Regions from separate parts of the Homo sapiens genome. Here region 2 is linked to region 1. Evidence: fine-mapped expression QTL. Tissue or cell type: whole blood. Region 1 holds a variant in brackets; the other region holds the start of a gene. All regions are shown on one strand. Distances are between the middles of the regions.

Region 1 (3,024 bases):
AGATCACAAGGCCAGGAGTTGAAGACCAACCTGGCCAACATGATGAAACCCTGTCTCTACTAAAAATACAAAAATTAGCCGGACGTGATGGTGGGCACCTGTAATCCCAGCTACTCAGGAGGCTGAGGCAGGAGAATCGCTTGAAACCGGAAGGCAGAGGTTGCAGTGAGCCGAGATTGCGCCACTGCACTCCAGCCTGGTCAATAAGAGTGAAACTCTGTCTCAAAAACAAACCAACCAACAAACCAAAAACTCTTGTAACCCTGGGGCCACCCAGCCACAAAGAGGCAGGGCTGGGACAGGCCCCTGCAAGTCTCCTCTGGAAGGCCAAAGGGCTGCTACTAGGAAGGGGTGGCAGACTCATCCCATGTGGCTTCAGAGGGCAGGACATGGACAAAGGTTATGGGAAGGGAGGGAAACTTTCCAATAACCAGACTGCACAAGAGTGGAGTGGCCTGCCTCAGGAGGGGTAAGCTCATGCAAAAGCTGGCTGTTGGGGACATTGGGAGGGACTCTGAAGGTCACCACCACTCTGAATCAATGCTGTGTGGGAGGATGCCAGGGTCCACTGGACCCATGACGTGCCTTTAGCGTGGGAAGCAGGGAACCTCAACTTTGGAAAGAGTGAGGGCACAGTGATGTCCAGCCACTCCCAGAAGCCGTCTGTTAATAGAGCAACCCCTCGGGCGGTGTGCAATCCTAATGACCAGCCCCAGGACATTGGAAACAGGGTCCTGCTGACCACAGTCTAGGAGACAGGGCTGCACACAGACGGAACCAAGCACACAAGACGAGAGAGGGTGTGTACCGCAGAAACCAAGGGCTCATTTATGTGCTGCGTTCTCAGTCTGCAAGGAGTCAGAAGAGAGGACAGTGAGGCCAGGAGAACTCAGGGAACACTCCTTGTTGTAATCATCACAGTTATGTAACTCATATTACCAGCTGTTCTTTCGTGAGCATTCTCTATGTGCCAGGCTAAGTGTTTTGTATGCACTGTATGATTTAATCCTAGAACAACACTATGAAGCAGGAGCTCTTAGTATTCCCCTTTTACAGATGAGGAGGCAGGCTCAGAGAGGTGATGTAACTTGCCCAGAATTATATAACTAGTGTGTGGCAGAGCCTGGACTCAAGCCCAGATCTGTTGGACTCCAGACCCCGTGTAGAACCATAAGGAACTGATGCTGCTTCAATTTCTGCACTGATACGGAAATCTCTCCGAGATATCATGCCGTTGTTTTCTATTGTTGCTATAGCATATTATCACA[A/G]GTTTAACACATATTTATTGCACACTTCTGGAGGTCAGCAGTCTGACATGTGGGTCTCACTGGGCTAAAATCTCAGTGTGGGCAGGGCTGTGTTCCCCTCTGGAGGCTGCAGGGGAGAATCCCTTTCCTTGCCTTTCCCAGCTTCTAGAGGCTGCCTGCATTCCTTGGCTCCTGGCCCCTCCTCTGTCTGCAAAGCCACCATTGTCATGTCTCTCTAACCCTTTGTCCCAGTTCCCTCTGACCACAGCCAGGAAAGATTATCTGACTTTAAGGATCCATAGGATTAGATTGAGCCCACTTGGATAATTCAGGATACTCTCCCCATCTCAAAGTCCTTAATCACATCTGCAAAGTTCTTTTTGCCAAGTAAGGTAACATGCACACCTGGCAGGGATTAAGGTGTGGTCACCTTTGTGGGGGCCATTATCCTGCCAGCCATATAAAAAGGAGAGAAAAGAGGCCAGGCGCGGTGGCTCACACCTGTAATCTCAGCACTTTGGAAGGCTGAGGCGGGCGGATCACCTGAGGTCAGGAGTTCAAGACCAGCCTGGCCAACATGGCAAAACCCCATCTCTACTAAAAATACAAAAAAATTGGCTGGGTGTGGTGGCTCACGCCTGTAATCCCAGCACTTTGGGAGGCCAAGGCGGGTGGATCACAAGGTCAGGAGATCGAGACCATCCTGGTTAACACAGTGAAACCCCGTCTCTACTAAAAACAAACAAACAAAACTCTACTAAAAAAAAAAAAAAAAAGAGAGAGAGAGAGAAAAGAGCAAGGTGCCGAATCAGTAGCAAGGTGCTTCTTCTGGTGTTAAAAAATTCTTAAATGGGGAGAATAACAATATATACTAGTATTTGCATAATGAAGGATACATTAAGGAACCAGTATTGGGGAAGAGCTAGCCTGATGGGGACAAGACTGGATGGAGATTTTTGCTGTCGTTATGCAAGTGTTCAAACACACGCAAAAGTAGAGAGAACAGTATAATGAATCCCATATACTCATCGCTCAGCATCAACGATTTTGCATTCTTATTGCATTTTATCTCTCCACTTTTTGGGAAGGGGACTGAACAATTTAAAGCAAATCCCAGACATCATATCATTCTACCCATAAAAACTGCAGCGTGTATCTCTAAGAGATACGGTTTTCTCAGAAACATAACCATGGCCGGGCGCAGTGGCTCATGCCTGTAATCCCAGCACTTTGGGGGGCCGAGGCGGGCGGATCACGAGGTCAGGAGATCGAGACCATCCTGGCTAACACGGTGAAACCCTGTCTCTACTAAAAATACAAAAAAATTAGCTGGGCGTAGTGGCGGGCGCCTGTAGTCCCAGCTACTGGGGAGGCTGAGGCAGGAGAATGGCGTGAACCCGGGAGGCGGAGCTTGCAGTGTGCCGAGATCGCGCCACTGCACTCCAGCCTGGGCGACAGAGCGAGACTCCGTCTCAGAGAGAAAAAAAAACAAAAACAAAAAACACATAACCACAATGCCATCATCACACGTAAGAAAGTTAACAATATTTCCTTAACATCATCTAGTCCTTAGTCCATATTTAAATTTCCCTAACTGCCTACAAAACCTTTTTTTTAATAACTGGTCTGTCTGCATCAGGATTCAAGAATCAGGCCCACACGTTGCCCTTGGTGGACAGAACTCCTAAATCTCTGTTACAGATTAACAGTTTCCAGGAGAAACACGTTTCCCTCTCTTGTATCTTTATTTTTCAGTTATATAAACAAATGATCTATT
Region 2 (2,723 bases), 60 kb before region 1:
GGTAACAATCGCTGTGAGCTGGGACCTGTGGGCACCTTTCCACAGACAGCAGTCCCAGGCCCAAGACAGGAGGAAAACGCTGCCTTCCCTCCAGGCCCGCTGGGCCTCACATCCCTGCCTCCTGAAGCAGCTGGGAGCTAACACACACCTCATTCCTTCCTGCCTCTGCATCCAAACTGGCGAGTAGGAACCGTCTTACACTTGTGTGCCCACCACAGCAGCCCAGACATAGAGAATGCTCAGGAACCACCAACTTGACGGTTTGCTTGTTGGCCCCTGACTCTGTACCACAAGTGCCTTCACAAGAGCAAAGGCTGTCTCCCTTGCCTCCAACCCCAGCACCTGGCAAGATGCTTAGCACCCAGGAGATGCCCAGCAAATGTTTGCTGAGTTCATCTGAAAAAATGGACAGGAGTCCAGCGGCCCTGGATGCAGGCAGACTTCCCCACTGTGTGACCCCCAAGAGAGGGACAATTCATCCTGGCTGGCAGAGCGTACCCCAAGTCACTTAGAGCCCCTGCTGTAGCCCCTCTCCTCGGGAAAAGTTGTTAAATGAAGTGCAGAATCTGCTGCCTGAGATTCACTGGGGGTGACTCCCTTCCTACCTAAGGTCCCATCCAGCCAAAGGTGAAATCAAGCCAATCTGTGATACATCTGTGGAAGGAACACTGAGATGTCAGATACTGCCAGGTCTCGGTCTCCAAGCAGGTGTCCCCTCCCAGTCCTAACACGCAGGTACATTCAGCTGCTCCCAGGTTCTCAGAGGTGAGGGCAAACTTCATTCCAACTCATTTGAGTGAAGTACTATCAAACAGTAAAACCCACTGCATGAAGAAAAGCAGCCCCAGGACCCTCAGAGGCAAGTGGAGGAGGGAGTATTAGGATCATCCCTGGCTGAATTGAATTGCCCCTCCAAACAAAGCCCTTCTAGTCCAGCGACAGAGAACTCCAGCTCCCCAGGAGCAGGGATCAGTCAGTCCTGCATCTTCCTCCCACAACTGAGCCAGCTCTCCTTCCAAAGGCCATACCTTCCCCTGCAAATGAGGGCTGCGGCTATCTCCAAGGTCCCTGGGAAACTCAGCTGCTGGACAATGGTGCCGCCCACCCTAGGCCATGCTCTCAGCTGCTGCAAAGGCTCAATCAGGTCTGCTACAGCTCCGGACTGTCTTGCTGTTATGTAGCCCAGGGGCTGTGGAGTCCCCACTGCTGGGGGAGATAAAGCCCAAGCTGTGACATCCACCAACCACCCTCCCTTTCCCACCACAATAGCTGTGAGCTGCCACAACAGGGGATTGGCCTCCTTTTAATTACCAAAAGGAAACAATGAAAGGAAATGGTATTAGAAGTACCTCCAAGCTGATAAAGCTTTGTAGAGTTTGGAGGGAGACCTCCTGGCAGCTGCCTTAATTAACTGCCTTGCCCTCCCCAAACACCCCCTATCCCTACACCCCCACACTTGATCCCTGGTCTTCCTAGAGTGCCCCACCTGTGTGGGATAACCAGGAATGCTGGTTGTTTCAGGGCAAGCTGATACAGGCCAGGGGGAATCACAGTAGAACAACACAGCTTCCTGATCCAGCTTCCAGGGCTGGACTCCAGGGAAGTTGAGAAAAACACCTCAACCTGAGCCAATTTTGCTGCTGTGTTTGGAGGAAGGGGAGTACTAACACTTCCTATGCACCCCAGGTATGAAGGATCCGGTCCTGGCCCTGACAAAAACAGTCCATTTGGATCCTGGCCAGGGTTGAATGGATCGGCTAAAGATGAAGGTCTTGGCCACAAGCCTAAGCCTTTGTAAAATGGTGAAGGTGGGGAGTGATGGTTTGAGTCTAATACTTCTACTGTTGCTACATTCTAATAATTCTAATTCTCAAGGACATTTCCACCCACTTCTGGTACCCTGATCTTACACACACACACACACACACACACACACACACACACACACAATTCTTCTTCCCAGCCTCCCATTCCCAAAAGCCTAATTCTCAACACCATCTGCTAAACTAATTCCTACTAAAATAAGTAACTGATGCAATGGGCAGCGGTGGGGGGAAGATGACTCTCGTGCTGGGATTCCAGGCACTGAGACAAGCACCCTGAGGCATGTCTGGGTATGGAAGACCTCCTCACTGCTTCTCCATGATACCTCCTGCCCTAAGACTTTGAGAAACCACTAGGTTCCAACCTCCTCCCTTCCCACATACCTCGCACTCTGCTACTCCCTTTACCGCCCCAGGAGAGGAAGATGCACACTCCCAAGGAAGAAAAATGGCACCAGAGGCAGAATCAGCATGAGACAGTAGAAAAGGCCATTGGGGGGCCGGGCACGGTGGTTCACGCCTGTAATCCCAGCACTTTGGGAGGCCGAGGTGGGCGGATCACGAGGTCAAGGGATCAAGACCATCCTGGCTAACATAGTGAAACCCCGTCTCTACTAAAAACACAAAAAATTAGCCAGGCGTGGTGGCGGGCGCCTGTAGTCCCAGCTACTCGGGAGGCTGAGGCAGGAGAATGGCGTGAACCCGGGAGGCGGAGCTTGCAGTGAGCTGAGATCGAGCCACTGCACTCCAGCCTGGGTGACAGAGCAAGACTCCGTCTCAAGAAAAAAAAGAAAAGAAAAGAAAAGGCCATCGGGATTTCCACTTCCAGCTCTTATTTAAAAAAACTAAATAACTAATCTGAAAACCCTTTCATTACAAAATATCTTTAAATGCTGTGCT

Evidence for each region.
Region 2: it holds the start of VWF, and the variant in region 1 is fine-mapped to the expression of VWF in whole blood (INTERVAL, PIP above 0.99).

Annotation. Positions count from the first base shown.
Region 1 is chr12:6,182,886-6,185,909 of GRCh38, forward strand. No RefSeq gene overlaps it. Among named protein-coding and RNA genes, the nearest start is that of CD9, 16 kb to the right of the region's middle. RefSeq lists an enhancer at 272-451. The variant A/G (reference allele first, on the strand shown) is at 1,269.
Region 2 is chr12:6,123,393-6,126,115 of GRCh38, forward strand. VWF (von Willebrand factor) reads right to left here and starts at 1,278. Exons shown (of 52, transcript NM_000552.5): 1 at 1,029-1,278.